Linked DNA regions of Homo sapiens. The protein of the gene in region 1 interacts with the protein of each later gene in a biochemical or structural test. Each region holds a gene or a part of one and is shown in the gene's direction. Other genes may lie near its edges. The genes, in order: MET, DCN, GLMN and RANBP9.

Region 1 (8,219 bases):
GCCATGCCTTAGGTTGTGGCTGACTTTGCAGACAGAGAAGGAAAATGAAAGAGTGCCTTAAGTTCTACTTCTCAAAAAAAAAAAAAACTTTTGGGTACTAGGCTTAATAGCTGGGTGATGGAATAATCTGTACAACAAACCCCCATGACACGAGTTTACCTGTATAACAAACCTGCACATGTAACCCTAAGCCTAAAATAAAAGCTTAAAAAAAATAGGTCTACTGCTCCCAGTTAAACGACTGCATCATTCACTACAGAACCGGAGACAATTTAAAATAATTATAACAGAGGCCGGGCACAGTGGCTCACACCTGTAATCCCAGCACTTTGGGAGGTTGAGGTGGGTGGATCACTTCAGATCAGGAGTTCAAGACCACCCTGGCCAACATGGTGAAACCCCGTCTCTAATAAAAATACAAAAACTAGCATGGTGGCGGGAGCCCGTAATCCTAGCTACTCAGGAGGCTGAGGCAGGAGAATCACCTGAACCTGGGAGGCAGAGGTTGCAGTGAGCTGAGATCACACCTTCGCACTCCAGTCTGGGCCACAAAGCAAGACTCCATCTCAATTAAAATAAATAAATAAATAATTATAATGGAAGTGCAGTCATTCTGGAAAGACACAGACTTAAGACAGCTGTGTGACTTTGGATAGGTTACATGATCTCTCTGAGCCTCATTTCCCTCAATGTAAACCGAGAAGGGTGATACCTATTCTGGAGTTCTTTTAATGAGGATGTAAGCAGAGCTCCAGACTCATGATGAATACATGGTACACATTTAATAAGTGACAGCTAAATACATTATACCTTTGCCTGATTTTAGGAGAGAGGTCATAAGCTGGATGTGAAAATGAACCAAATCACTAACAAAATTGCAGCACCCTGTTGGAGACGGTAATTTTTTCTTAATTTTTCTGCCTACAATTTCCTAGGTCTTCTAATTAACATTGTGATACTTTAGCTTGTAGCCTAGCAGTCTTGTTCTTGTCCTCAATATTAAGTATGCTCAGTCATATTTTTAGATAACTTAACATTGCATATTTATTTTTAGACAGCCCAGCCACACATAAATGACCAATACAAATCAACATAAAAGCAGTTCATATCCAAAGTGCCCAGTTTTAACCCTCTGTAGCTGGCAGTTCCATTTTTAACGCGAAGTTTCCTAAAATGTATAATCTATAAAACTAATTTTATAGAAAATTGACACTGAAGATATTAAGAAAAATCAAAGCATTTTGTGGTCAATTAAATTGGGGAGATGGTAGGGTAAGCAAAGTTAAGAAGGGTTTTTTTGGTTTTTGGTTCGGTTTTGCTGTTTTGTTTTATCACATGAATTTTCAAAACCTTCAACATTCGAACATACATGACATAGCTCTAAAAAGGTAATAGGAGTCCTACATTTCCAAATTTTATCTGTGCTCAGAAATGACATTAGGTGACATTACCTGAATTCTTCTATTGTCTTTTTGTAGAGACATTTGCCATAGGCACAATAATAGGGGTGATGGGGCAGGAGGAAGGGAAAAACAGAGTGAAAGAAGGAGTTCCAGAGTAACTACTCTTTAAGGCAGGGATCACAGATCCTAATGCCTACAGGAGAAAGTGAAATCAAGATCAGAGGTGGGCCAGACACAACCCAAGAGAAGATGGTAGGTCAATGGCAAACAGCAGATCATATGGTCTTTCTACCTCAATTCACACTTTTAAAAACATTCTGTGCACCTGTATATGTCTGTGGGCCCTATTCACCATACATTGCAAGCATGAAGCCCCTATTCTTAGGAGACTGCTTTCATTTTTATTTCAAAAACAGCACCAACTTCAAGAGTGCCTTCAAAGACCCAAATTTTAATGTGTTAAAGGGAGGGAAAAAAAGATAGAGCATATTAGAGCAGGAGGTGGCTGTTCCTCTGTCTCTTTGTCACAGCTATCACTAGACCCATCTCAAAGTTAAGAGATGGGATCCTGTTTGTAGTTCAACATTATGTTATCCACAGGTGGATGGATAAGACCTGCTTATGCCTTTGGATCATTTATATTTTACCAGACACTGTTCCATGTGCTCTACTTGTAGCTCCTCATTTTATCCTCACAATAACCCTATCATGATCCCCATTTCACAGATGAGACACGAGAGAGTTTAATCCACTGGCCTGTAGCTACACAGCTAGCAAGAGACATAGCTGGGATTGAAATCCAGGTTGTTTGGTTCTAAAACTCTTAACTATTATGCTCAACTCAGTCTTGGAGATGTTGTTCCCAATTTGAGGGGTCTATCAGTTTTAATTGCTTTCAGCTGCAGGTGACAGAAGTCCCAGCTACCAGTGTCTAGAACAAGTTTTGTTTTTGTTTTTTTTCCACAAAACAAGAAATCTGGAAGCAGGTGTCTACTGGCAGTAGGGCTGTACCTCAGCAATGTCAGCACCAACTTCTGCATGCTGGTCACAAGATGGTTAGTTCTTCACTGGGCATCATATATGAAATCAAGAAGCAAGAAAGGAAAAGGGGTGGCACCAGCCTTAAACCCTTTCCCACAAGGCCCCATCAGACTTCAACTTATACCTCATTACCAGAATGACATCACATGGCCATGTCTAGCTGCAAAGGAGTCTGGGAAAGCAAATATTTCTCTTTTCAAGCCCCAAGAGTGGAGGCAGGAACAGGAAAATCTCGTTGGGAACAGATGCTGGCTTAGCCAGCCAACAGTGTGGACCACAAGAGATTTGGTTTGGTTAAGAAAATACCAACAGAACTTCATCATACAGTGTATCACCCATGACATGAACCCAAGGAAAGTTAAATAGCAACAATTAAAAGTTTGCTGCAAAACCAAAATTGAATTATAGAACTCCTATTACCTTTTAAAATATCTGTTTCCATTCATTTCCAAAAATCTGAAATTATCTGTAAACATTTTCCCAATCAAATCTGTCTAGGTAGTGTGTAAAAATTACTTGACCTTCACACACCCAGATACTTTTAGTTATGCTATTGTTAGTTATGTTATTTCATAAAATGTTATCTCCTTATTTACAGTTGATAAATGAAATGATGATTTTCAATACAGTTTCAAAACTGGATTGAAATTTTGTTAGTTATTAGAAACTAGAAAGTTTCAGTGCTGAAAATACACAACGGGTTGTTTGTATTTATCATCTATTTTATTTTCCAGTTTGCATTGGCTTTTCTGGGTCTTTCTACAACTTTAATTGTAAATTTTTTCTTTTATATTTTTATCATGGCACTCAAACTCAGAAAACCTGTTAAGGCAACTACATAATGTGATCTAAAAATCCAGTTAACATATTGCTATGGAAACCAGGAAATAGAAACAGCACTCTAATCATTCCTTTAGACAACTATGGCTCTGTGTGTGTGTGTGTGTGTGTGTGTGTGTGTGTGTAAAACTTTTTAAATTCATTAATTTATTCATCTTTTATTGAAAGCTGTTACTGAACCCAAAATCTGTAATTGATCTGTCCATAAATAGGCCCAGTGCCTTATTACCAGTAAATTAGTGTTTTTTAATGAGCTATAGTCATTGATAAATTATGCCATGCCGTATCAGGAAATCTCCAGTCAGGCCGCGTTGTTTATTTAGCCTGCTGAGGCCTCTTGGTATGGTGTGAAGGACACCTGACTGGGCTGAAAGCTAAGTTCTAACTTTGCCCCTCTTACTAACCAGCTATGTGACTCTCCTGGGAACTTTTAGGGACTCAGTTTCTTTACCTGCAAAATGGTTCAATGCAAGACTTTAGTAACGTAATGGGAACTTTCCTTTTCCATAAAACTGGGGAATCAAGAGGTAATCTCTTTTGAGGACTGAAATCACTCTTATGTAACCTCTGGTTACATTATCATTTCCAAGTGCCTGGCACTTGGGAAATGATAACTATTCTTACTACATTTTTCTATGTTTCATTCTGTAGTAAATAAGAACTGAACCTGCATAGTAACTGTTATTTTAACCCATGACTTTCAATAACGAAGATATCTATGTCTCATTATCTATTGCCATGATTGAACAAGTTGGTATGAGAGCCGGAACGAACTCAAGTTCTAACCGGCAATGCCCGTTCCTTAGATCCTATTACCTTTGAGTGTTCATTTACTCTTGTAGGTGCCAATTTTTATAGCGAAATACAAAGTTATCCCAACACAATTACTCCTAATAGAGTTCACCGAGGCCCCAAAAGCTCTTTTTTAAAAATCATCATAAGATTTCAACATTCAAGAATTAAACTTTTGTTCTGTTGTGCTTATTCATCGCTATTTGCCCAGTTATTTAATCAGCCTGCTTCCGGCTATGGAAAAAAAAAAAAAGAAAAAAAGAAATGGAAGTCTCCTCAGGGTTAAACTCCTCTGTTGTTCTTCCTTGCAGAAATTTGAGTTATTATAGTAGAGGATAATCGTTGCATAATGAAATCATTGGGACAATTCGTCCATCCACTTCTACCTCCGCCTCTAACAATGAACTCCTTGTTTCTGCGGTGCCCAAATCTCTCTAAACCCGGGTGGGCGCGGGGCGGTTAGCGGAGACGTGGGAGAGGCCGAGAGCAAAGCTCGCGCCCTTCCCGGGGTCAGCGAGCGGGGTGCCAGGAGGGTGCGCGCCCTGCATCTGAGCCCGGGGTGACACTCGCCTCCCAAGCGCCAGGAGGGGGAGACTCGGTCCCGCTTATCTCCGGCTGTGCTAACTTCAGACTGCCTGAGCTGGGGGAGGAGAGCGCGCAGCCAGGGCGAGAAAACTTCTCCACCTAGAAAGTTTCACCTTGTCGTGGGCGGGGCAGAGGCGGGAGGAAACGCGACCCCCGCGGGGCCAGGCGCGGCGCGGACGGCAGGAAGGGCGGGGGCCGATTTCCCTCTGGGTGGTGCCAGTCCCCACCTCAGCGGTCCTCGGAACCCGCGGACTAGGGGACGGACAGCACGCGAGGCAGACAGACACGTGCTGGGGCGGGCAGGCGAGCGCCTCAGTCTGGTCGCCTGGCGGTGCCTCCGGCCCCAACGCGCCCGGGCCGCCGCGGGCCGCGCGCGCCGATGCCCGGCTGAGTCACTGGCAGGGCAGCGCGCGTGTGGGAAGGGGCGGAGGGAGTGCGGCCGGCGGGCGGGCGGGGCGCTGGGCTCAGCCCGGCCGCAGGTGACCCGGAGGCCCTCGCCGCCCGCGGCGCCCCGAGCGCTTTGTGAGCAGATGCGGAGCCGAGTGGAGGGCGCGAGCCAGATGCGGGGCGACAGCTGACTTGCTGAGAGGAGGCGGGGAGGCGCGGAGCGCGCGTGTGGTCCTTGCGCCGCTGACTTCTCCACTGGTTCCTGGGCACCGAAAGGTAAAATTGCAGCCCCTTTCAGATCCAGTACCCAATCCCTCGCCTCAGGGGTTCTGCTTTCTTTGTTCCCCTAAGAGACCTGACTGCTGTTCCAGGGGGCAAAACCACGTAGGTGGGCTAGAGTTTAGGGGCTTCGGAAACTGAAGAGACGTGGCCACGGCGAGGACGAAACTAGAATGGGGCTTGTCTTTTTAGGGGGTTGCTTCTGATGGCCACCTGTATGACTTAGGAGGGAGAGGGGCGCTGGGACAGTGGGTGATGTGTGACTGTTACGGCCCAGCAAGTTTTAAAGCTGGGATCTGACTCAGCCCTTACAAAAGGGATCCGGTCATCCTCGTCCCACCGTGATGCAGCTGGCAAGGTTTGAGCCGAGCTGTTTCCTTGTTCCCAGCCTTGCTTTATCTGTGTTATGTTGGGGTCCTTCCAAGGGGCAGGTGTTTCTGTGAAAGTCTGAATTCATTTCTGGCAATCACGCGGGGCTTGTGATCCATCAATTTTCCATCGTACCTTATCTCTTTCTGGGGCTTGTGGTGGACATCTATCTTATTAGGTGAAATAGATTATAACCAGAGGCTGAGCGATGTGGCCAGTCGTAGTGCTGACCCGATAATTAAAGCACCAGTGAAAGTACTTTCCCTGACTATTGTCAATGCAGAATTTACTCCGAAGTACGGTTTCCCATTCATATCTTTCATGTTTTAAAAGAGCCATTTGCTAATTTGGCAGTTGGAGAGGGCTCCAATGGCTCACGCATGAATAGTTGCCCAGTGTATTTTACCTTATCACAGTTTTATGTTCAAAGGAGCCCTCGGGCAGAATGAAATATTGTCAACTCTCTTAGGCAAAATAATCAAGATACTTTAATTGCTATGTTAAGATGGTCCATGAATGTGAGAGGATTGTAAGAACTGACGTTGGAGGCAATATAGACTATCTGGACCCTCTCTTGAATTTTAAGAAGACTGTTCACATTCTGTAGCTTTGGGTGGGGGTTTATTCTGTCGCTTTCATCAGCCAGACACATGCACATTGCCATGCAAATGGATTCAGAAAAACATTATATTCCCTTACAGCTAAACTATTATAGCTGACTAATGAATTTTTTCTGCATGAAGATGATCTGAAAATGATGTACATCATGTTTCTCTGTGCTACAGGGACATAAATTGCATTTTTATGTAAACAGTGTAAGTGGTGCTTGGATTATTTACAGGTACATAGCTTTCCTTCCTTGATCTAAGCTAATTGAGCTTTGTTTTGAACGTGTAAACTTCCATAATGGAACATAAGTGAGGTACTTTGGTTCCTATCATTTGCAAGTCTGTGGTGTATTCAATGTTCATTCTTTTTGAACTGCTGAATAACAGAGGGAAAATTTACATCATTCATAAGAAATTTTGGTAGTACAAAAATGTGTCTGATAGCCTATAAAATGTACTGCTGTTTTAAAAATTCTATTCCGTTTTCAAACTTAATGGTGTATAAGCTATAGTTATTAACTTAAATATATTTTGCTTTTAACATGATGGAATTTGTGGCATATAGAAGACAGTCTGCCGACTACTGCTTTTTCAAAATTGCTTTGTTCTTGATACATGGCAGTAGGGGTTTACATTAGATGTATACTACATGCTTTCAAAATTAGTTGATGGAGTTTATCTTCATGATAAAAAATGTACCAGATTAATCATAGCCAGTCAATACGAAAGCTCATAACTAATATTTTCACTACTTTTAAACCTATAATAGAGAAAAATGACCCTTTGCTAAGCAGGAGAAATACCCATATTTTATAAATTCCTTTTAAGACTATGTAAGTATATGCCTTGCATTAATCTTGAAATCTTTAAAAAAAAATTGTCTTAATGAGGGCTAGACTAAGAAATACATTTCAAAAATCAATTTCCTTAGCTGTTTTTAAAATAGTGTTTGAAGTAGCATTAGTCATATTATCCTTCTGCAGATCTACATAATAGTCTCAAATTAACTTTTTCTCAAATGTGGTCATCTCAAAACAACGTGAATAACTCAGAGGAGCTAACATCCTCTAACTGGCTTATTTTCTCCAAGTGGCTGCACCAAAGACATGGCAACACCCCCATGGTGAGCACAGTTCCTCACACATTCAGATTACCTCCCATTTCTCTGTCCTCTTCCTCCTCAACCCTTTCCCTTGGTTTGGTCAGAGCTGCTTTCAAGGCCTTCCGTGCCCCCATTTCTCCAGCCCAGTTTGCTCGTTTCTTCTTTAGGCATTAGGCTTAGTGATTCTCGCCAGAGCCATCTACGCTTTCTTTTCCGTGGTCTAAATCCCTAAGATTTCCTTGGTCTGCTGTGTTTATTCATAGGATACTCAATTTCCTCATTGTGCCCTCTTAAGGGGAGAAAATGTATGTAGAAACTCAAGTGTCCGGAAGTGAGCCTTCTTTTCCTGGCTGGTGTATGCTGAAACTAGTGTTTTTGACACCAAGCCCTTAGGGCAGAGTTTCTTCATGGGTTTTGCTCAGTGCAAAATAAATAGTCACTTCTCAGTAATAAATGATAGATACACTGACTAATGTTAGTTCAGAATCACTTTGATGATGTGTTCTCAACTGACACTGAGTTGCTGCTAGATCCACATTTGCCTGACCAAAAATAGCTAGGACCTATAGGTAGAGTATCATATGTGCTAGGTACTACAGCATTTTCTTTAAAAGAAAGAAATGGAATCTGCCCTTGAGAAGTTTATGATCTAGATACACAGACAAATATCACATATTAAATGAACACAAATTCATAATTATTAAGAGGACATCACATGAGAAACGCTTTCAAAATCATCCTATTTGCTATGAAATAATAGAATTTTTTTTTAAAAATCAAAGTTTGGAACTTAAAAACCTTAACATTTTCAAG
Region 2 (8,829 bases), on another chromosome or scaffold:
AAAATGTCAAAATTTTTGCCATCACTCAGTGCAAGAAGCTTTCATTCAACACAAGGTCCTTTCCCATGTGAAAAACCAGCCAATCGGGAAAATTCCATATGAACCTTTCCTTCTTTCTGTCATTCTATAATTCAGATTGTGTGATTCTCCAGCATTGCTCAGACCAGAGTCCCTTTCAAGACGATACATTATTTTAGTACCCTAAAAGTAAAGTTGAACTCACATAGAATGAGTAATTTCTTATAATTTTCACATACATCAAGAAGTTTAGTTAACGTAATCATTTTTGTTTGTTCTTCCTTTCCATTGGAAGCATCCTTGGAGATGAAAATGCAAACAAAGAAGTCAACTTTTCCTGCTATCACTTACAATGGCAGAAGTGTTGGTTAGAGTGGTGCAGAGGGCAGTGTTCAGAGTACGCTGCCTCATCACACATTATTTGTGCTTTTAAAATTGACTATGTACCATGGTGCCTGGTGCAGAATGAGTACTCCAAACTTTTCTTTTTAATGTATTACATCATCTTCCTGAGAAGTAGCTCTATTTTCGCCATGCTCATCTATCTTCCTTCCCCTTACTAAGATATTAATATACTGAGATTAAAACTACAACCTTCTAACTAGTTTCCTTGACTCTAGTTTCACCACTCTACATGTGCTTGCTAGATTTGATTTTCTAAAATAATAATTGGATCATGTTATTACCTCATTCAATTACCTTTGATAACATCTAGATTCAAGCATAATAATTGGCACATATTCATCAACAAATTAATATTTGATGAACAAATGAATGAATAAATGTATAAGTGCTCCATGGGAGAATTTCAAGTCCTTCCACAGTTAGACCTTACCCTCATTTATTTCATTATCTCCTTTTAGTTATTTCCATAAACATGGGACATTAATTTATTGTGTGACTTTGACATGTCAGATACCATGAGAGTTACTGAATGTTCAAAGAAATAAAGGAACTCAAGGCTTCTTTGAAAGAAAGTATCTGCTTAAGCCACATTGATTTATTTATTGTCTTCTGCTTTCCCATTGCCAAGGTTTGTTAGTGTCATTTTGCCAACATAAAAAGCCATTTCTTTCTTTTCTCTCCATGCATATTCTTTTCATCCCTCAGGATTTAGCTCAAATTGTACCTTGTTCATTATAAACACTTACCTAACCACTCAAATGTAAAGTGATCCATCCCTCAATCCCTTCTCTGACTTTCTAAGACAATTATTTTAATTACATCATACTTTACTTTGGCCGGGAATTATACATTATAAGTTTTCTGGTATGCTAAAGCTAAAATATTATTATACAAATCTATAGTTTATGCCATATCTCCTTATGCAACATATTTCCCTTGAGGCTATGCCCTTCACATCGTACTTTGTATTTCTTGGTATCTTCCATGGGGCCTGGTATAACACTTCCTCCCACAGTGGTTCCTCAGTCTATATTTTTTGATTAATTGATTGATGAGTTATTGTAAATTTCCTTGTATTTAACAGAGAGGTATGTACCTTGTGCAGACTAATGGATATTCAATAAGTGTTGATTTACTGTCCAAGTACAAACTAATCAATATTATGGAAATAATAATTAATCTTTTAATTAATTACAACTGACAAAAGAGATGCCCCAGAGCATTCAAGAAAAGTCAGGAAATTAAGGAACTGAATATCTCCTTGATACTTTTTAATCTATTTTAATTCATTACTTATCCTTTCCCTGTCTCTATTCCCATTTCTACTTTACTGCTCAGAGTAGAAATTCTTAACCTGGAGTCTCTGTTTCCTTATAAAGTCCATGAATGGATTTCAGCTGGACTTGGAGCCCAATAAAATGTTATGCATAAAGAAAGCCAGGCTGTTATGTAACAACACAAAGTCAAGGCTTAAACGAAAGCTTATCTAGCTCCAAACTATATCATAGCTTAGCTGATTTCTTCTGTTGTTAGGCAGAAAATCCACTGGACTATAAAAGATGTGCAGTCTGGTTATTGTACTGGAGTGTCCAAGGTAAAGTTTGTAATAACAAAAAACACAAGAGAAGCAGCAGCGGAAGCAACAAGTGTTGCTTGAGATGTGTCAGGCACAGTTCTAAATGTTTTATGTATTAAACTTCTTTGAACCTCACTATAAACTCATGAAGGGGATACCACTGTGGCTACTCACATTGTATAGGTTAAAAACCTGGAGAACAAAGAGGTTAAGTTACTTGTACAAGGTACCAGGACACCAAACACAATGGTAAGGGATGGAGGAATAGAGGCATGGGAAGATAGCCAAGGTAAAAGTTGTCTACACCAAATTTTCTTTCAAGCTATTCTGTATTCAAAGTGCCCTCAGTTCCACGCTAGTCATCTTTCTTGGCTAGGGAAGAACTCTGTCTACAGTGGCAACTACAGAGCCAGACAATTCACACCAGACCCAGATCTGACTTTGCAGAGTCAGTCTACAGACAAACCAGTCACATCAGGATTGTGAAGATAATCACTTGCCTCTAGACCTCTTAGAAAGTAAAGGGGTGTCAGAAGGAGACCTTTCTAAGCTCTGGCATTCTTCATATCCTTAATGGGCAGGTACAATTAAATACTTTGTATGTGATGTCAATGAGAGAGAATGGCCCTGAAATGAACTTCGACAATGTGCAGAATACAGTTAACCCTGTTAGCTAGTGGGTTGTCAGTAGAAATCAAAGTTTAAGTAGTTTAACAGTAGATGTGGGATGTGCTCTGAATTGGAATATTTCACATATCTATATGTCAGCCAGGGATTCAGGGAATCCTACCCCAAACATTCCAAGCCAGAATGACTTTAAGCAATCTGTGCACAGTGCTGTTTCTAGTCTTAAAATGGTTCCATTTCATGTTGGATTGCAAGAGACCTGGTTTCTGGTCATAGTGTCATGACCTCTTGGTGACTTAACTGCGTATGACTTTGTTGGGACATAGTTTCTTCTACTGAAAAATGAGTATGACGATAGATGTAACTTGTGATTAAAGATGCAGCTTTTAAATATGATGATGTTTGGTAAAATGCTTGAGATTTTGGAGGTGAGTTTCTTTCCAAACAACAACAACAAAAAGAAAATTTTTATTTGTTCCTGAACAAATTAAATAAAGTTTTAAAAGCATTGCAACTTGGTCATGGTTTGTAAAATAGTCTGAAAAGATGTTATCTCAAAACTTTGATAATTACTTTTCTATATGTAAGAATTTGCTTCCTCTTTCTTAAGATACATTATAGTTTAGTATAGTTTAGTAATGAAAAGTGGATTAGGCATGAGAAGACCTGGATATTAGTTTCTGCTTTGTTTCTTGCCAGCTCTGTGAACTTGGGCAAGTCACTGGGCTTCAATTTTCTCATTTGTAAAACAGAAATAGTAAATATGACTTATCTTGTCTAACTCAAAGGATTGTTTTGAAATATGTCAAGACATAATAAAAGCTTGCATTTACAGAGATTTTCACTTATAAGGATTAAGTTCTGAGTTAAGTGTTTTATATATATTGCCTTATTTAATCTCCACTCCAACACTATGAGTTAGGTAAGAATTTGTATCCATTTTTCAGATATGGAAACTGAAATTCAGAGAGGTTAAGCAAGTTGCCTGAGTTCATATAGCTTACTATCGGGGGGAAGGAACAAGATCTAAATCTTAACCATAATGGTTCTGCTTTTATAAAAGTAAAATTATCTACATAAAAAGGCATTATGTCTTTTTTTCTCCTCCTCCTCATTTTTCTTCTTCTACTTTTTCTTTAATACTTCCTTTTCTCTCTCTCTGTCTTGTAATGATGGCCATAATTTGTCATATACACTTTAGTAGGGTTAAGTTTTGATAAACAGTAAGCCAGGATTGGGGCAAAACACCAGTCCGGGTACGGTCCATAGCCAATCATTTGATTGTCTTTACTAATTTAGCAAATGTATCTTGGTAACTTAGTATATACCATGGCTATTCTGGGTGCAGGGATTCTACAAACATGAACACAATGTCATTCCTCCCTTGGAGTAAGACACGTACATAAATAATTATAATATGAGGCAGGAGTGATTATATGTCATCAAAAAGAGATAAATGCCATATAAGGAGAGTTCAGAAAGGAAATTAATAAATTCCAAGTAAAGGGGATCATGGACTTTTGCACCAATGTCCAGGGACAATAGTGCTTGCCTTTGTCTAAACTATCAGAATAACTAGATATGTGGTTATTAAATGTTAAGGAGATGCAGAGTAGGGTAAATTGTTTATCTGAGAGGCTGGGCTTAGGAAATAAGGCAAACTATAACGTGGTAACACGCCTCCCCCTCCTTAGATACCACTTGAGAATTTAATTTCTCTAAGTTTTTTTGAGGAAAAAGAATATTTACTGTGGAAGAATATACTTTGATGGCTGGAGGAGGGAAGGAAGGAGGCTGGAGGATGGGAGGGGGATCATCTCATGTTTCAAACTGTTGATTTCCAGTTTCCACCTGGTAACAGCCTAGGGGCCAGAGCATAATGATACAAGTCAAAACACAGAGACCTACACAGAGACAACTAACAGCATCCAGCAAGGGAATTATAAAAGCTCAAAAAAGATTTCCAGTGGCTAAATAAATACCTTTCCTTGTAGTTGCACTTGTTTTTCTTTTCATTTACTGAAATTTGGAAAGACACATAGACTCTATTGCCTTTTCAAAGTTCTAGTTTACATAAAAGTATAATCTATGAAAATCAAATTTTTCATATATAGAGGATGAAACTATGTTGTGATCAACTACAGGTTATCTATGTATTTTATTTAAAAACTGGTGGACAGGGAGAAAGATTTTAAACTATGATTAATGAAAGTGATAGATGACATACTTTTCATATAAAACCATGACTTTCTTTCAGGACACTTTAGAAATATGTCCAAAATATACAGAAAAACTCCACAGCATAGTGCTTGAATTTACACAAACATTCCAAGGCAAGTAGGAATCCGAATGAGTAGTTTCACATAAGGCTACTCATTTATTTTTGCAGTCCACATTTAAAACAACTACAAGATTAATTTCATTCCATTTTTCTGGACTTACACATCCCAAAAGCAAGAAAAAAATGTCATTTTGGAAGTATAATAAATGCTACTTGTAAACAAGGCTAGAAAGGGTGGAGAATGAAATGAGATGGGGGGTGGGGAAACAAACCCTTTAGTTACAATATCTTAGGGAAATGAATCTACAATAAGACAAATTTCAAATCAAGTTGCTCCACTATACTGCATAAGCAGTTTAGAATCTTAAGCAGATGCAAAAAGAATAAAGCAAATGGGAGGAAAAAAAAGGCCGATAAAGTTTCTGGCTACAATACAAGAGACATATCATTACCATATGATCTAATGTGGGTGTCAGCCGGATTGTGTTCATTGAGGGAAACCTTATTTTTTAACTGTGCTATGGAGTAGAAGCAGGAGGTTTTCAACCTAGTCACAGAGCAGCACCTACCCCCTCCTCCTTTCCACACCTGCAAACTCTTTTACTTGGGCTGAATATTTAGTGTAATTACATCTCAGCTTTGAGGGCTCCTGTGGCAAATTCCCGGATTAAAAGGTATGGTTTTCAATAATTGTCCTGAACTCTGCTACAGACTAATAAAACTTCGGTCAAGTTGCGAGCAAAAGGGATTATTTGGTGAGAAAAAGAAAAGGAAAAAAAAAACTGTTAAACTTTTATAGTTTTTATGCAACATTTTAAACAAGTATTATTTGAAAACAGAAGTTAAATATTTGATAAAATGATTGAATGCATTGTTTTATTTCTTTCTCTTCTGTTTTTGCAAAGATGCTTCTTAAAAAACTGTAACCTAACACCATGACTCTCTATATTAATGTTTTTGTGTTTGTATTAATGAATGTTTAGCTCTTCAAGAGATGGTAACCGAAAAGTATTCTGAAGTAGCATATCTGTAATTGACCTATATATTTAAAAAATGTATTTTTCTCCTGAATTTTTGATTGCTTTAAGGACTTTTAAAAGCCCAGAAGAACTGAACTCTGGTGATTAGCTGAAAATACCTAATGTATATTTCTTCAACCCCAGAAATGAACAGAAATTATCACCAGAGAAGTGAAAATAAACATTGAAAATATTTATGTTATTAAATGCCTAAGATACTAAAAACGCTGTATAATTTCTTAAATGTAAAGTGTCCCAGTCAGTATCTTCACTGCAAGTGAAATTTTAAGATACATTCACTATAAAATGAGGATGTGGGTTAATTTTCTAATTTTAAAACAGGGTAACACAGTGACCACTGATTAAGTGGGCTCCCAGTGATGTAAATACCTGTGGCTTTTTTTTTTCCTGTTGCTGTTTCTAACCAGAAAAGAGCCAAATGCCTCCTATAGTAACCCTTGTTTGTGGATAAATGCCGCCTTTATTCTTTATTTTAAAATTACATATATTATAATTGAAGTTTTTAATCATCTAGTGCTGTAGGATTTTAATTTTGTTTTGCATTTATAGCTTCACTTATCTCTTGAGGGTTAAATTTTGACTTTGAAAGTGACACCAGAGGCATAGATAACATAATGCAAATGTTGATCTGGATGACATACTTCATTTAATGGGCTTAACTAGTTTTAGGAACCAGAAATTATTATTTTTGGTAAAACATTTGTAAACTATGGCAACTAGCTTCAGTGGAGTAGTGATATTACATTAGTAATTAGCATCTTGGACATTGTCATGCATTTTTAGACTACTTAAAACAGTTTCAGTATAATTTAAACAGCATATCATCTCAATAACAATCTCTTTGGTTACTACTTGGACAGCTGCTCTTTGCTCTTTATATTTCTGATTAATTAAGGAAAGAAGGAAATGACGAAAGGAATTATCAGTATTGACAGCCCACATTAAATGTTTTAAGATGCTGGGTCTTGAAGTACCATGACACTAATTTAAAACAGATGATTTTATGGAAGATTTTGCACAAAGTTTCTGGACATGCAATTATTTTTTCACAGTACAGTCAGGGTTAAATGCACACACACACATACACTCTCTCTCTGTCACACACACATGAACACACACACATACATTCTCTCTCTCTCACACACACACACACACGAGCAAATGAAAATGAAATAAAGGTCGGTGATTGAAGTTATAAGCTGCCTGTCTATATTCAGCTTCAATCAAAAAGAATATTGTTTGGAGAATTTGTACCATTTTAACAGGAGTAAACAAACATAAATTATAATACTATTTCTCTCAGCTAATACTCAACATTTTCTTTTTGTGGGTTGTTAGTGAAACAACCAGGCATGTTCTGCTCTGGAGAAAAGATTTCAAAGTGACATCTGCATTAACTGTCGTTGCTATTTATTAAATCTGCAATGACTTTGCTTCATTTTTCTTTTAAACTTGTAAGACATTAAATATGCAAGGCTAGCAAGCTTGTGGTAAACCATAAACATTGCATTTTTAATGGGAAACAGATACAAAACCACTCCCTCAGATACAATCCAAAGGAACAGGCTGCCAAAACAAAAGTCTTCTCTTAAAGGGATACTCAGTAACTGAATGAGAGTGGGCTGCTAGAAGAAGCTTAATGTTGAACTTAAAGTGGCAGTGTGAATAATAATCTTTATGATATTTTGTTAAATGAAAAGCCACAAGCCTGTATTCAACATGTGCTGCCTTAGACACATATCAGTAGTAAATATAAACTAAGAACAAACATGTAAGAAACTGAAAAACATTTGTTTCTTCTCTAGAGAATCTAGGCAAAAATTCCCAGAAGATACCTTAAGGTTAGATCATACAAAGATCTTTCTTTTCTCTTCTCTTCTTTCTTTCTCTCTCTCTCTCTCTTTCTTTCACTTTCTTCCTTTCTTTCTTTTTCTCTTTCTTTCTTTCCTTTTCTTTCTTCCTTCTTTCTTTCTTTCTTCCTTCCTTCTTTCTTTCTTCTTTTTTTTAATATGCTACAATTGGATAATGACTCAAAACAGCTGTAAGATTCTACTTACGAACGTACAGCTTTAATATGGATTCGTCTAAGTGTACAATTCAAGGTAGAGATGATGGGACTAAATATCTGCTATGATGGGACTAAATATCTACTATGTTTTGGAGATATCAGAATGGTTTCAATGCAATTTAAAAAATATTTCATCTCCCAAATGACTTTGCTGCTATATAATCAAGTACTTTTGTTATTCAGATTTATTACGATTTTGTCACTCAGATTTATTTAGTGCACTTCAGTTGATTTAACAACATAGATTCGTGCTTGTGGAATGAATGGATAAATATGGAATACATTTATCAAAACAATACTTGTTTTTTTACAAAATGCCCTGTTAGCAAAATGAGATCATATATACATCACATAAAAATCAGAATTTTCCATATGTGTTTATTAGCTTATTAAACATAATGTTTGAGAAACTAGGAAATTGATTTATTTTTTAAAGCCGATCTTGCTTATACCAAGTTGAGGTTTTCAATCTGCTTTTTTTATATCAGAAATTCGATACTGAAAAAAAGCTAATTTTGTGTTTTAAAAAATCAGACTGATTGCTTGGAACAAATGGAATAAATCGTCTTGTCAATAAAGTGATGGTCAATTGAGTCATTTGTGTGCAAAATATTGTGCAAGGCCCGGGTACAGAACAAGGAATAATAAGACACGCCCTGAAGGAGTACATCGTCTAGTGAGGGACAGACCAAGCACGCAAAACAAATTGCAATATAATGTGATAAGTTCTTTAAAAGAGGTAAGAGCAACGTGCTTTGGGAGCAGAGAAGAGGGAGAAAGCAGCATCTTGCCTGGATGAGCCAGGGGACACAGA
Region 3 (8,156 bases), on another chromosome or scaffold:
CTTGGAAGCTTTGTTCATTCCTTTTCATTCTTTTTTTCTCTAATCTTGTCTTCACACTTTATTTCATTAAGTTGATCTTCAATCTCTGATATTCTTTCTTCCACTTGATCGATTCAGCTATTGATACTTGCATATGCTTCACGAAGTTCTTGTGCTGTGTTTTTCAGCTCCATCAGGTCATTTATGTTCTTCTCTAAACTGCTTATTCTAGTTGGCAATTACTCTAACCTTTTATCAAGGTTCTTAGCTCCTTGCATTGGGTTAGAACATGCTCCTTTAGCTTGGAGGAGTTTGTTATTACTCAACTTCTGAAGCCTACTTCTGTCAGTTCATCAAACTCATTCTCTGTCCAGTTTTGTTCCCTTGCTGGCAAGGAGTTGTGATCCTTTGGAGAAGAGGTGTTCGTGTGCTTGGAATTTTCAGCCCTTTTCCGCTGCTTTTTCCTCGTCTTCGTGGATTTCTACCTTTGGTCTTTGCTGTTGGTGACCTTTGGGTGGAGTTTTTGCTTGGGTCATCCTTTTTGTTGACGTTAATGCTATTGCTTTGTGTTTGTTAGTTTTCCTTCTAACAGTCAGGCCCCTCTTCTGCAGGTCTGCTGCAGTTTGCTGGGGGTCCACTCCAGACCCTGTTTGCCCGGGTATCACCATTGGAGGCTGCAGAACAGCAAAGATTGCTGCCTGCTCCTTCCTCTGGAAGCTTCATCCCAGAGGGGCACCCGCCAGATGCCAGCCGGAGCTCTCCTGTATGAGGTGGCTGTTGACCCCTGCTGGGAGGTGTCTCCCTATCAGGAAGCACGAGGGGTCAGGGACCCATTTGAGGAAGCAGTCTGTCCCTTAGCAGAGCTCAAGCGCTGTGCTGAGAGATCTGCTGCTCTCTTCAGAGCTGGCAGGCAGGAATGTTTGTCTGCTGAAGCTGCACCCACAGCCACCCTTTCCCCAAGGTGCTCTGTCCCAGGGAGATGGAAGTTTTATCTATAAGCCCCTGACTGGAGCTGCTGCCTTTCTTTCAGAGATGCCCTGCCCAGAGAGAGGAGGAATCTAGAGCTTAAGTTTTTTTTCAATTTCCATTTCTATTTAAGATTCAGGGGTGCAGGTTTGGTACAGGGGCATATTGTGTAAGTTGTTTCTTTCTCTAAGATAAAACATATCCATGAAATATTTGCAGAGCCGGATGACTTCTATATGAATTAGAAGAAAGGGGAAACCTGGGTCTTGTTCATGGCTTTTTATTTCTTCATTACCATCACTGACTGTATTCTTTGCAGGGTTCCTGACTGTTCTGGCAATAAATTTCATTGTAGTGTAGAACTGCCTAGTCTTCCTTTTGTGAGAGAGATATGCTACAGTGAATTTTGAAATGTATAGTTTTAAGCCTTAGAACTGGAAATCAGTAAGCCTCCTTGGGTATGAAATTAAAAGCAGGTATTTGTGAACATTTCAAATTTTTAATTATAACTATTTTAAAACTCTTAATTTACTTTTTCTAGACACTGAAAGATTTTAAGAAATCTTAAAATGTGATTTTCTTTGTAGTATTTATTATTTCTTTAAAAACGATCTGGTAACCTTGAGAGAAAAAATATTCTTATTCTCACAGCTTCTTCACTCCTACATGCTTCTAAAAATATTACAGTTTATCATCTGAAAAATTTGTGGAATTATGCTGAACAGAATATGTAAAAAATTTCTTTAGGCTACTTTTGGCATGTGTTTTTATTACCTGAAGTTTTATGATTATGGGCTATTGCCATTGAAAACAGCTAAGGTTTTAACATTCAAAGATCTAGATTTGCACTGTCCAATACAGTAGACAGTAGACACATGTGACTATTTAAATTTATATTAATTTTTTTTTCCTTTTGAGTTGGGGTCTCACTCTATAGCCCAGGCTGGAGTGCAGTGGCGCAATCACGGCACATTGCAATAACAACCTCCTGTACTCAGGTGATCCTCCCATCTGGGATTACAGGCATGAGCTACTGCGCTGGGCCAGTACTCTTTATTAATATGTGATTATTTCCATTTGAGAAATTTGAAACATTAAAAGAAAACGTTTGGTTAGAGATACATTTGCTTTTTAAAGTCCTGATTTAGTAATTTGGTTAAAATTTTTGGCTGAAGAGAATTAGTGAAGCTTAATTGTATATTTGTACCAATGAATGATTATAAAACTTTATCACTGTAATCCCAGCACTTTGGGAGGCTGAGGCGGGCAGATCACCTGAGGTTAGGAGTTAGAGACCAGCCAGTCCAACATGGCGAAACCCCATCTCTACTAAAACTACAAAAAAATTAGCTGGGCATGGTGGCAGACGCTTATAATCCCAGCTACTCTGGAGGCTGAGGCAGGAGAATTGCTTGAACCCAGTAGGTGGAGGCTGCAGTGAGCTCAGATCATGCCTCTGCACTCCAGCCTGGGCAACAGAGCAAGAAGACACCATCTTAAAAAAAAAAAAAAAAGTTTTGGGAATCAGATTTAAAAGAATTTCCATTACAAAGTAAAACTGAAAGGATGAAAGAAAAAAATTTTCAACTTAGAACTTCTACAAGAGGAAAGTTTTTCATGGATACAAATTCTTTGGTTATATTTTTGCAAATATTCCAGTCTGTGGCTTGTGTTTTAATAGTATTTTTCAAAGAACAGAAATTTTAATATTTATGGAGTCCAACTTATCAATTTTATTCTTTTATGATTCATTATTTATGGGTTCTAAGAAGTCTTTGTTAACCCAGATCACAAAGGTAATTTCTTGTAGAAATTGTATAGTTTTAGGTTTTACACTTAGGTCAATGACCCCATTTCAAGTAAACTTTTTATGATATGAGATATGGGTTGAGAGATTTTTTTTTCTTTTATTTTGACCTCAACACTATTTGTAGAAAAGGTTATCCTTAATTTACTGAATTATCTTGGCAACTTTATCAAAAATCATTTTATAAGTATGGGTCTATTTTTGGACTCTATTCCATTTACCTGTATCTATTCTTTTACCAATACCACACTGTCTTGATTCCTTTATAGGAAGAAATTATTCTGTTTTATTCCTTTATAGGAAGTCTTGACCTCAAGTAATGTGAGTCTGCCAACTTTGTTCTTCTTTTTCAAAATTGTATTGGCTATTTTTAAATCCTTTACCTTTTCTGTATAAATTTTAGAATTTTGTCAATTTCTGCCACAAAGAGTTTTAATTCCACTTATGGCATTCTGGAAAAGGCAAAAATTACCTTAACAAAAATCAGATTGCTGGTTGCTGGAGGTGGGAGGAAACTGACTACAAAGGGGCACAAAGAAATTTCTGGGTCATGGGAATATCTTTACAGCAGCAGTGGTTACATGACTTTATATCACTATATATCTTTGTCAAAGCTCAGAATTGTATAGCTAGAAGGTTATATTTTACTGTATGTAAACAATATCTCAACAAACCTGACTTTGAAAAATAATAAAAAGAAAAGAACTAGGCTCAATAGTGAATTAGACTGAAATTACCTCATGAACAGGCAAGCACACTGATTATGTAAAAATCTTTCTGATGTTTACTTTTGAATTGTTTATTCTCCATTTTTCTACATTAAAGTATTAAGATTAAATGTGTTATATGGAAAGGATTTGAGGGAAAACTTTTATTTCAACTATATAAATAAACGTGTGAGTTGTGATGTAAAACCTAGTTTTTACTGAGAGTCATGGCAAAAATAATTTGAAAAACAGTATCCTAGAAAAACTTTTACCCCGTGTGAATGGGAAAACATACAGCAATGTAAATGCTGCATTATTTTGAAATACTAAAAACTTAGGATAAATTCCATATAATGGAATGCTTATGCACCAATTAAAATTAGAGCTACAACACAAATAACTCTCAAAAACATAAGATTGACAAAGAAAAAGGAAGCTGAAGCAGGTTATATACAGTATACCATTTATGTGCTTTTAAACATGAAAAATTATATTGTTTAAGTGATACATTAGGAATGCAAAACATTCAAGTTTTAGATAATGGCTACCTCTTGAATAAAGGGGATTTCAGCCATATCTAGTATTTATTTTTTAAAAGTAAATATGATAAAATGTTTCCTTTTGTCAAAGGTTTCCTTTTGTCAAAGCTAGGTGTTTTCCCTATACTCTTTATGTTCAAATGTGCTTTAGTGGGTAACAGAGAGTCATCAGTAACCTAGTCTTGAAAGCCATCAGTTGCAGTGGGTTCTGCCTATAAACCCAGAGGTGAATGCAAAGTAAAAAGAAAAAAAAAAAGTTGGGGGGCAGGGAATAAATGGTGAAGAAAAGGCTGGACGTAAAAAGGAATAAAAGCCTGTTATTTGCAGCAACGTGGATGGACCTACATGTCATTACATTGAAATATGCCAGGCCCAGAAAGACAGTATCACATATTCTCACATGTGTGAGCTAACAAACTTGATCTCGTGGATACAGAATATAGAATGATTGATTGATACCAGAGTGTGAGCATGGGAGGAGGAAATGTAGAGCAACTGGTGAATGGGTACAAAAAGAGTTAGATAAAAGACAAGCTGTATTGCTTGATAGCACATTACAGTGACTATAATTAGCAACAATATATTGTATATTTCAATGTAGCTAGGAGAGAGGACAGGAAATGTTACCAACCCATAGAAATGATGAATACTCAAGAGGATGGATACCCCAAATACTCTGACATTATTATACATTTTATACGTGTAACAAATACATGTACCCATAAATATGTAAAATATCATGTATCAGTAAAAGAAAAAGGCTGGATAGAGAGAGGTAAAAATAGGAGAAATGAGAGCAGTCAGTGCACATAAGAGTAATATGCTTGTTATACTGTGTGGCTACACTGGTTAAGGAAATTCCTGCTGCATATAACCCAAATTTGCCATTAGAGGTTAAGAAAACTTTCCACTTAACAATTTAAAAATTATACAACTAAAACATCCATTATTTAAAAATCAACATAAAGAAGCAAAAAAAAAAAAAAAAGAATAGTAATCAAAATTACACCGTTGTTGATATACTGTATTCCCTTCTAGGTTTTGGGTTAATACGTCTGTACATTTTTTCTTTTTTAAAAAGAAAATGAGATCATACTAAAAGAATCACACTGTTTTATAACCTTTTTTCCCATTCACCAATATGTACTGAAAAACAGTATTTTAATGGCTGTATAGTTTTTCCATTATGTTAATATGTCATAATTTACTATGAATCTCCTGTTGAGTTATTTTAATTCTAATGTTTCACTAAACATTTTTAAAAAACATCTGCAGTAGAATCATAACATACATCTTTATTTCCCCAAGATAAGTTGATAGATGCTAAGTGAAAAGGTATGCATATTTTTGAGGGTTTTAGATCCTCTCTAGTATTCTACTTTTCCTATTAGTATAGGATAAATAAGACAAGATGACTGAAATGAAAAGGATAGGTGTGAGACATTAATATTATCAATTATTCAGCATAGACATGTGTAGATTTTATTTGGAATGCTGCAAGTAACATGTACTACTTGGGTCAAAATAAGCTCATTACAAAATAGGTTATCAAGTAGTTCATTATTCTAGTTAAGAATAAATTGGGTCCCTACGTTTCCCTTTTTGACCTAAGACATTTTCCTTTGTAAAGAGTACTTGGAAACTGGAAGTACCAATGGATTTTCTTTTCTCTATTTTTTAAAATAAAGACTTCATGAGTCCTCTCCATTAGTACTGTAAGAGAAAATGCTCTTGGAATAAACTCTAAGATACATGACAAAATAAGCTGCCCTCAACAGATAAAATCTTCACCTACTTTGGTCACCAGGGAGGTTCAAATTAGCCGGGTATTAGAAAAGTTTCCATCAGTAGGAAAGGGAAAGCATCCTCTAGAACTAGATCCGTGGTGTGGATATCAATTGAAAGGCCATACTTGGGATGAAGGCATAAATAAGGTAGAGTCATTGTGGAGATGGCTCATAGAGGAAGAGACGTCTGTGAATTTATCCTCAAATAATTTTCTCATAAATAAAACTTAACAAGTTAATAGATCTCAAAACCTGGAGCTATCCAAATGGTGCAGTGATAAGCGTAGTGCCCCAAGTACATTTTTCTTTTAATTGGTATTCACATAACTAGCTATAGTAATAATTATTAAATAGTGAAGTCCATTGTGAAAAGCAAGGGCCATGTTTCATTTATTTTTGTTTTTTGAGCTTTTATCGCGTTTAATAGTAGGCAATCAATCATTGTTGAACTAAATAACTCATTCTTTCATTCTTAACAGACTGGATTATGGACAGAACTTGGAAATATTGAGAATAATTTCTTAAAGCCACTTCATATAGGACTTAATATGTCAAAAGCACATTATGAAGCAGAAATTAAAAATAGCCAAGGTTGGTAATGTGCAATTTTGTTTTCAATTAGGTCTAAAAAGTAGTCTAATTTTGGAACTGTCATATTCAAATTTAAGAACTTTTTAAAAATCTTGTACTTTAGAGACCATAACAGCTAAGCCATTTTATTTATAGTTAAAATTCTTAGCAGATCTATAAGCTAATTTACCTAAAATCGGGTTAATGAAGACTTAAACCAAATATTACATTGTAAAGCCTCAAGGTCTGATTAAGAATCTGTATTACAGCTATTTCCGTTTGGGTACCATTCCTTTGGTATTGCTGGGTCCACTCTCCATCTCACTCTCAAGTAAATCCATACAAATTATGAAAAGAATCTTAGATCCAGAATTTTTTTAAGTCAATAATTCTATAATAATCGTGTGATCTCTTCCGTATATCTGTGGTGGTGCTTTTATAGGCATTACCGGAAATTTTGTTTTTAGTATAATGGCTATAATTCTGATTATATACTGAAGAAAACAGTTTCATGAATCCTATACATGCCAAAATAATGCTATTTATCTAAAGAAGCATTAATTTACATGTTGCAGAATTTTGATATTTCATTCTGTTTGCTTATAGCTTAAGTATACCCTGAGCTGTTAAACAATGGACTTAATAATTTATACAAATAACTGACATGTTTTAAGTTAGTGAATGAAAGTAGCTTATACCTTTGTTATTGAAATCTGAGAGTTAAGTGTCACACATGATTTTTCTTCTCTTACAGAGGCCCAGAAATCTAAAGATCTTTGTTCTATAACTGTAAGTGGAGAAGAGATCCCTAATATGCCTCCTGAAATGCAGCTTAAGGTGATCTGAAATTTTCTTTTCTTTCCTTTTTCTTCTTTAGAAACGGGGTCTTGCTATCTTGCCCAAGCTGGAGTGCAGTGGCATGATTGTGGCTCACTGCAGCTTCAACTCCCTGGGCTCAAGTGATCCACCCACCTCAGATTCCTGATTAGCCAGGACTGCAGGTGCACACCACCATGCCTGGCTAATTTTTAGTAGAGATAGGGTCTCACTATGTTGCTCAGGCTGGTCTCCAACTCCTGGCCTCTAGTAATCCTCTCAGCTCAGCCTCCCAAAGCACAGGAATTACAGGTGCAAACCACTGTACCTGGTCTTAAATATTCCTAAGCTACCTCCAGCTGAAATCTTTTCTGTGTTTTGCTTTGTTTTGCTTTAAAGGCAGCATTAATAACATTACTTTTTCTTGGCATTGCAGGTCCTGCATTCAGCTCTTTTCACATTTGATTTGATTGAAAGTGTTCTAGCTCGAGTGGAAGAACTCATTGAAATAAAAACAAAGTCTACCTCTGAAGAAAATATTGGGATAAAGTGAAAGTTCCATTTCCTAAATAAAAACTAATAAAATATAGTACTTTCCATTATGATTCATTTAATACCTTTATAAAAAATTTTTCTGTAAAAATTTACTGCTTGAAAAATAAATGTAGCTTTTCTCATTTATCAATTTCTATAATGATACACTATAGAACAGGTTTTTTTGGTTTTAAAGTTATCTAATGGTAAATAATGCCCACATATGTCCTAAATACTACTTTTGAAAATCCAATACAAACTAATAATTTTATAACTTCATAAAATGTAGCTGAATTGTCTATATTCATTCCTACAGTTTTAGTGAGCTTATAAAAATACTGATACACTTTCTGCTGCAGTTAGATGCTATGTAACATTTCGGAACTCCTAGTGTCAAGTTGGCTATCATACCAGTGTAAAGAGGCCAGTTGACTTTTCTTAGCTTCTCTTT
Region 4 (8,156 bases), on another chromosome or scaffold:
GTGTGAACGGTGCTATGTTATGAGGTGTTTACTTCTGATCTGGCTGCCAGAAAGCTATTGTTAGATGTGACAGAATTTTATAATTTTAAATTTATGGTTGACAGTAAATAATTTGCTCATAAAGTCAGAGCCAGTGTAGATGAACAAAGAATTCTAGATTTCCTGAGTTCTGCAGTTGTTTGTGGTTGTAGATATTTTACAAGACTGAGCCTCAGTTTCTTCCTCTGAGTGGTGTGTAAGTTGAGCTGGACGATTGGTAAGGAAATTTCCAGCTCTGAATTTCCGTGATGTCTAAGATTCGTGATTACTGTTTATTTAGTACTGTAAGGTGTCTTGATTAGTTTTAGTCTTTTACATAAAATTGATGATTAGGTCAGAGAAAAATACACGTTTATATGAAATTAGTTGGAGTTTGGAATATTTCTGACACTGCTGTCTCAGTTGTTTTTATTCTTGGCCTCTTTATTACTTTCTGTTGTGTAATACTAAGGTTCACTTTCTGGGAACATAACTGTTTTATAAACATAAATCATTATTTCTGGAAGAACAGATTTTGTTGTTATCCTTTTATTTTTCCTCTCTTCTATCTTTCCTTTGTCTCTCTCTTACCCCTTGTCAGAAAGTCTTTTTCCCTTTCTACTGCCTCTTCCTCTTGTCTTGTTACTGTAGACTGTGTGTGTGTGTGTGTGTGTGTGTGTGAGTTTTCCGTTGTTACTGTTGATTTTCTGCGTGTTTTGTGAGAGGACCACGCCGATTGTGGTGGGCAACTGTGTCCCAGTAGCAGTAGCAGTAGCAAAGGAGAAGTATCATAGAGAGTAGATAATACTTTAAAATCACAGAATAAGAAGAGTGAATTTTTATTTAACCTATCATTGTGCTGCATTGGTTTTACCTAAGTATCATGAGACACTTTTAACAGTAAAAACTACTATTCATATATTCACGTATTACAGAATTTCAAAAGAATGATTTTAATTATTTTCCAGAGTGACGAGAATTTTCCTTATCTTTGAAATAGAAGTATTTTGCTTTCTTTTGCTCCAAAGGTATTCTGGTTTTTTGTTGTTGTTCTGGTGTTTTTGTGTATGTGTGTGTGATAGGATTTCAACTTTGTTGCCTTGATGGAGTGCAGTGGTGCGATCATGGCTCACTGCAGTCTAGACCTCCTAGGCTCAAGGGATCCCCCTGCCTCCATCTCCCAAGTAGCTGGGACCACAGGCTCCTGTCACTATGCTGGGCTAAGTTGTAATTTTTTTTTTTGTGGAGATGGGGTCTTACTGTGTTGCCTAGGCTAGTGTTGAATGTTTGGGCTCCAGTGATCCTCCCACCTTGGCATCCCAAAGTACTGGAATTACAAGCCTGAGCCACTGTGTCCAGCCTGTATTCTGTTTTTAAGATGTTCTTCTAAATTGAAATTACTGCTTTTGGAAGCAGTATTGTTCCTGAAATGATTTGAAGAGATTAATGTTAGATAATACTAGACATGCAGATAAGGTTGATTGGATTGCAGAGGAACAACAGGGTATGTATAGTATATGTGAAATTTTTTTAAAGGCCTTTTGCTTAGCAGTCACACAACAACTATTGAAAAACCCAGGGATAGCCCCTCTTATTTTTGAAATTGTTGTCAGTATTGAATAAGTACAAATGTGACAAGTTTAGACTTAGTTATAATGATAACGGGAAAATAATTTTAATAAATATGACAATGGACTTAGTTTAAATGTTTCAACAACAGATTGCATTTTTATATTTTTCTAGTTATTACCACTATTTGGATATTTTATAGAGTGCTTTATATATACACACACTAGTGGATCTGGACAAGATCCTGGAATTTTCATTTTAAATTTTAGAGAGTGGTAGAACCTGGAGGTTAGATCTTCCCAGTCATGAGTAAATCAGGATTGAAAATTTTCACTAACTCCAGATTTAGTGTTCTTTTCACAATCCCATAGTATTGCCTCTTTAAGTTCATATGAGACTTAATTATCTCAAGTAGATAAAATCCTGTGATCACATTTAGAACTTTTAAAGAATAGTTGAGATTGAAAATACTTACTCTGGGGGAAAAAGGTAACTGGAACACAGTGCTTCAGAAAAGTCCAGACACCTTGATTTTACTAATTTAGAACAGTTTAGAAGAAATCCAAGGTAAGTCAAAGTTGGGAATTATAGGAAGCAATGAAATAGTCAATTTCAGTGGGTGTGGTGGCTTACGCCTGTAATCCCAGCACTTTGGGAGGCCAAAGTAGAAGGATCGCTTGAGCCCAAGAGTTCTAGACCAGCCTGGGCAACATAGTGGGACCCCGTCTCTACCCCTAAAAATTAACCGGGCTAAGTGGCACACACTTGAAATCCCAGCCACTTAGGAGGCTGAGGGAGGAGGATTGGTTGAGCCCAGGAGGTTGAGGCTTCAGTGAGCTATGATGGCCTGGGTGACAGAGTGAGACCCTATCTTAAAAAAAAAATAAGTAAATAAATAGTGAATTGCATTTTTTTTTTTTTTTTTTGAGACAGAGTCTTGCTCTATCGTCCAGGCTGGAGTGCGGTGGTACAATCTCTACTCATTGCAGCCTCTCCTGGGTTCATGCAGTTCTTCTGCCTCAGCCTCCTGAGTAGCTGAGTAGCTGGGATTACAGGCGCTTAGCACCACGTCCGGCTAATTCTTGTATTTCTAGTAGAGACGGGGTTTCACCATGTTGGCCAGGCTGGTCTTGAACTCCTGACCTCAGATGATCTGCCCGCCTCGGCCTCCCAAAATGCCGGGATTACAGGCATGAGCCACTGCGCCTGGCCTGAATTGTCCTTTTTTTTTTTTTTTAAGATGGAGTCTCGCTCTGCTGTTGTCAGGCTGGAGTACAGTGGCGCCATCTTGGCTCACTGCAACCTCCGCCTCCCGGGTTCAAGCAATTCTTCTGCCTCAGCCTCCTGAATAGCTGAGAATACAGGCATGCGCCACCACGCCTGGCTAATTTTTGTATTTTTAGTAGAGGGGAGGTTTCAACATGTTGGCCAGGATGGTCTCGATCTCTTGACCTCGTGATCTGCCCGCCTCGCCCTCCCAAAGTGCTGGGATTACAGGCGTGAGCCACAGTGCCCAGCCAGAATTTCACTTTTTAATTGAAATGTTATGAACAATAACCAAATAGGTTGAACTTTTTTGTTGTTTTTTGAGACCGAGTCTTGCTCTGTTGCCCAGGCTGGAGTGCAGTGGCGCCATCTCGGCTCACTGCAAGCTCCGCCTCCCGCGTTCACGCCATTTTCCTGCCTCAGCCTTCCAAGTAGCTGGGACTACAGGTGCCCGCCGCGACGCCCGGCTAATTTTTTGTATTTTTAGTAGAGATAGGGTTTCACCGTGTTAGCCAAGGTGGTCTCTTATCTGCTGACCTAGTGATCCACTCGCCTCGGCCTCCCAAAGTGCTGGGATTACAGGAGTGATAGGTTGAACTTTTGTTATACTTACTCTGTCTTTCCCACCTGTACCCCCAGTCATTAGCGCTTGAACACTTCCTAAATATAATTGCTTATCTAATTTCTTGCACTTTTTAAGTTTGAACAGATATTTCAGCATGCTTGCTTACAAGTGCAAATGTCTGTTAAGCATTACGGGGGTGATATAAAAATGTTTCTTTTTTTTTTTTTTTTTTGAGACGGAGTCTTGCTCTGTCGCCCAGGCCCAGGCTGCAGGGCAGTGGCGCGATCTCCGCTCACTGCAAGCTCCGCCTCCTGGGTTCAGACCATTCTCCTGCTTCAGCCTCCCCAGTAGCTGGGACTACATGCGCCTGCCACCACGCCTGGCTAATTTCTTTTGTATTTTTAATAGAGAGGGGGTTTCACCGAGTTAGTCAGGATGGTCTTGATCTCCTGACCTTGTGATCTGCGCGCCTCGTCCTCCCAAAGTGCTGGGATTACAGGCGTGAGCCACCGCGCCCGGCCTAAAAATGTTCCTTAAAATGAAGGAATTGAAGAATTACTTGCCAAGATTTTGGGAAATTAGGTTTAAAAATGCCAGTTGGTAACTGCAAGAATCAAGTAAATCTAATAATCATGCAGAACAGTAGACAATAATAATGTATATTCTTTTTTTTTTTTTTTTTTTTTTTTTTTTTGAGACAGAATCTTGCTCTGTCGCCCAGGCCGAAGTGCAGTGGTGGCACTTTGTCAGCTCACTGCAACCTCCATCTCCTGGATTCAAGTGACTTTCCAGCCTCAGCCTCCCAAGTAGCCGGGATTACAAGCGCCTGCCACCACGCCTGGCTAATTTTTGTATATTTAGTAGCGATGGGGTTTTGCCATGTTGGCCAGGCTGGTCTGGAACTCCTGACCTCAAGTGATCCGCCTGCCTTGGCTTCTCAAAGTGCTGGGATTATAGGCGTGAACCACTGCACCCAGCCTAATGATATATATTCTGCTAGACTAGACAATTTATATGTGTTTTTCACTGTTCATTTCTTCATTTATTTAATGAGCTTTTAGTGAATGTTTACTTTGTGCTAGGTTCTGGACACTCAGAGGTGGAGAAGATACTGTCATTGAATTCAGAGAGCTCAGAGGACATAAAATAGAGTAGTAAGGGAAATATTATAGAGAGTACTGTGGAAAATAGGAGGAGCGTATAACCCAGGCTGACATTGGAAAGAATGAAGGAAGTGTAGGTATCAGGGATAGCTTCTTGGAGGAGTCGAGGCTAGTGGTCAGTCTTAAAAGATGAGTAGGATATAGGAGAAAGGGAGGGGCTAGGTGTTGCAAATGAAGGAAAAGCAAAAACATAGAGAATTACTTTATGTGTCTGGTTTTACAAGCAATTTTGGGTTGGCATTTAGAGTATGTGACAAGGAGCATCTGGGAAAAGATCAATTAGGAGGCTTTTTTTTTTTTCTCTTTTGAGGCAGGGTCTGACTCCATTGTCCAGGCTAGAATGCAGTGGTGCGATCTAGGCTCACTGCAACCTCTGCCTCCTGGGCTCAAGTGATCCTCCCACCTCAGCATCCTGAATAGCTGCAACTACAGGCACGTGCCACCATTCCCAGCTAATTTTTTGTATTTTTTTGTAGAGAAGGGGGTTTTGCCATGTTGCCCAGGCTGGTCTCGAATTCCTGAGCTCAAGCCATCTGCCTGCCTTAGCCTCCCAAAGTGCTAGGATTACAGGCAGGAGCCACTGTACCTGGCCCAGTTAGGAGCCCTATGGAATATTTTGTTGAGTTTAGATCTTATTCTGTAGGAGATGGAGAATCATCAAAGGATTTTAAATGGGAAGTGACTGGCTCATATCTTCATTTTTGTCAGATTACGCAGCTGATTGGAAGATAGATTCAAGAGGTTACAAGAGTGGGAATAGTAAATTCATTTAGAAGACTATTGCAGTAGACCATGTTAGAATTGACCTCAGCTGGGTCAGTGGTAAGGCCAGAGAAAGGCAGATATATTTGTGAGATATTTAAAAGTAATACTGAGAGGATATGAGGAATGATAGTGAGAGAAATCAAAGAAAATGTTTGGGTTTCCAACTCTGTTAGGATGATGTTTGGGTCTTTAGCTGTTAGGCTCTTGCAGTGAACCATGAATAAAATAATGATTGTGAAGGAGACTGTATTACAGTATAGTTGGAGATAAGTAAAAATGGGAATCTCAGCCCTGTGATCTGACTTCATGGAAACCAGAAGAAGCCAAAGAAACAAGCCTTACAGAAAGAACAGGAACAGGTCTTTTGGAGTTAAGGGGACTCTAACTGGTCTTAATAGTCATGACTTAATTCTATTCTATTAAAATGACTCAGCTCCAATCACTAGTTTCTGGTTGTTTTATTTCTTTTTCCCTACTGACTGGCTTATCCTTTCCTTCCTATGTCAAATTCCTGAGAGACTTAACAGATTGGCCTGGCTAATTGCTATGATTCTTAGTTGGGCAGAGCTTTTCAATACAGACTATGTTGTGAATTGGTGGCCTTCAAGTCAGGTGCTAACCTGTGTTGAATCAGCTGTAGGAATGGTGGTAATTATAAAATACAAAATACCCTGCTGGTACAAGGATAGTCTGGGTCTCACTTCTTTCGGTAGGGGCAATGTGTGAGGCAGTTTCTCCTAGGAAGGGTTGGCAGTTAACCATAATTGATCTGAAGCTTGGGAGAGAGGTCTAGGTCGTGACTGATTTAGGAGTCACTTGTAGGTGGTAGTTGAAACTCAGAGTATTTGAAAGAGAGAGGGAGAATAGAGTGAGAAAAAGCAGTGGGCCAAAGATGGGGACCCTGAAGAACACCAACATTGAAAGACTAGAGGGAGCACAAAAGAAATGGTAGGTCCCCAGACATCAAGGAGATTGGTGTCACAGAAGCTGAGCACGGGAGGGTGCAGTGGCTCACACCTGTAATCCCAAAACTTGGGGAAGTCGAGGTGGGAGGACTGCTTGAACCCAGGAAGTTGAGGCTGTAGCCAGCGGTGATCATGCCACTGCATTTTAGCCTGGGCAACAGAATGAGACACTGTCTCAAACAGCCTCCCCACCTTCCCTAGAAATGAGGAAGTGATATTTAGTGTCTGTTGCAACAGATAGGTTTAGTAGGATAGGCACAGATAGTTTTCCACTACGTTTGGAAATTAGATCATTGTGACTTTAGGGAGAGCAGTTTGAATTGAGTGATGGGGCAAAAACCAGATTTCAGTGGGTTGAAAGAGTAAATGAAAGGACCAAGTAGAGAGGATAGTGAATAGAGATTATCCTTGAGAAATATAGATGAAGGAAGAGATGAGGCATTTCCTAGAGGAGGATGGAGGTTAAGGTAGGATTTTTTTTTTCTTCTAATTTTTAACGGCTGATAGTGGAGTTACGTTTTACCTGGTGTTTAGCTTCTAATGTCAGCATAGAAGATGAAAATCCTACATAACCAAAATTATCCTTAAAAATTCCTTTGGAAAGTATTGTGTTAGAGACCACTGTGTCATTTCTTAGTCAATCTTGTTTTAATTTGGTTGTATAGGTAAAACTGAAGCGACATAAATTAAATGAAAATACTATATTATATTAGTCCAAGGTATGGTGTTCCAGGAAATGTATACAAAATTTAACATTTTAACAAATAAAATTGATTAGCCTACCTGGTTATTATTACTATTTTTTCTTGAACAGAGTCTCGCTTTGTCAGGCCGGATCCCAGGTTTAAGCAATTCTCCTCCCTCAGCCTCCCGAATAGCTGAGATTACACACACCCGCCACCATGCCTGGCTAAGTTTTATGTTTTTAGTAGAGATGGGATTTCACCATGTTGGCCAGGCTGGTCTCGAACTCCTGACCTCAAGTGATCCACCCACCTTGGCCTCCCAAAGTGCTGGGATTACAGGCATGAGCCACTGCGCCCAGCCTTGTTATTACTTTTAAGGTAAAAAATTATATACCACCAACTCTGGTACATTACTGACAATGATTTATATGTAGCACGGAGGCATAGAATTTGTGAAAAGTGTACATTTTGGGGACATTGTCCCTTTACAGATTGAGGGGAAGGAGAGATTAGAGAGGAAGATAATGAAATACAAGCTTGAGAGGCTGACAGAGAGGCTTCTAGAGAGGAAACTGGTTCCAGAGTCCAGAATGGTTGGTCTTGGAGAGGAGAGTACAGACTGTTCTTTGATAATAGTGGAAGAGGTGAAGACTGCCGTGGACATAGATCACTTTGTAATAAAAGAGTGGAGAGTTGAATATGACCATAGCTAATGGCCTCTCGTTTTTTGTTTTTTTGGTTTTTTTTTTTTGAGATGGAGCCTTGCTCTTGTCGCCCAGGCTGGAGTGCAGTGGTACAACGTCGGGTCACTGCAATCTCTGCCTCCAGGGTTCAAGCCATTCTTCCGCCTCAGCCTCCCAAGTAGCTGGGAATACAGTTGCGCACCACCATGCCTGGCCACTTTTTGTATTTTTAGTGGAGATGGGGTTTTATGTTGGCCAGGCTGGTCTCGAACTCCAGACCTCAGGCAATCCGCCTGCCTTGGCCTCCCAAAGTGCTGGGATTACAGGTGTGAGCCACCGCACCCAGCTGGCCTCCTGTTTTCTTGATAAGAGGTGAGGTACTTTGCTCATGAATTTGAGTAGAGGATGTAAAGTTTAAAGTAAATGATGAAAATGTGGACTAAGCCATTGAGAGGGATAGGGAATAAGCTGACAAC

Evidence for each region.
Region 2: the proteins of MET (region 1) and DCN form a complex in vitro, tested with the Homo sapiens proteins (one study listed by BioGRID).
Region 3: the proteins of MET (region 1) and GLMN form a complex in vitro, tested with the Homo sapiens proteins (one study listed by BioGRID).
Region 4: the proteins of MET (region 1) and RANBP9 form a complex in vitro, tested with the Homo sapiens proteins (one study listed by BioGRID and IntAct).

The regions. Positions count from the first base shown.
Region 1 is NC_000007.14:116,667,254-116,675,472, forward strand, and holds the start of MET (hepatocyte growth factor receptor isoform b preproprotein), read left to right. Parts: upstream 1-4,942; 5' UTR 4,943-5,324; intron 5,325-8,219. UniProt on the Homo sapiens protein: Receptor tyrosine kinase that transduces signals from the extracellular matrix into the cytoplasm by binding to hepatocyte growth factor/HGF ligand. Regulates many physiological processes including proliferation, scattering, morphogenesis and survival.
Region 2 is NC_000012.12:91,179,407-91,188,235, reverse strand, and holds the start of DCN (decorin isoform a preproprotein), read left to right. Parts: upstream 1-5,418; 5' UTR 5,419-5,581; intron 5,582-8,756; exon of another isoform or gene 8,757-8,829. UniProt on the Homo sapiens protein: May affect the rate of fibrils formation.
Region 3 is NC_000001.11:92,246,098-92,254,253, reverse strand, and holds the end of GLMN (glomulin), read left to right. Parts: intron 1-6,264; coding exon 6,265-6,376; intron 6,377-7,109; coding exon 7,110-7,192; intron 7,193-7,607; coding exon 7,608-7,724; 3' UTR 7,725-7,852; downstream 7,853-8,156.
Region 4 is NC_000006.12:13,701,363-13,709,518, reverse strand, and holds part of RANBP9 (ran-binding protein 9), read left to right. Parts: intron 1-8,156. UniProt on the Homo sapiens protein: May act as scaffolding protein, and as adapter protein to couple membrane receptors to intracellular signaling pathways. Acts as a mediator of cell spreading and actin cytoskeleton rearrangement.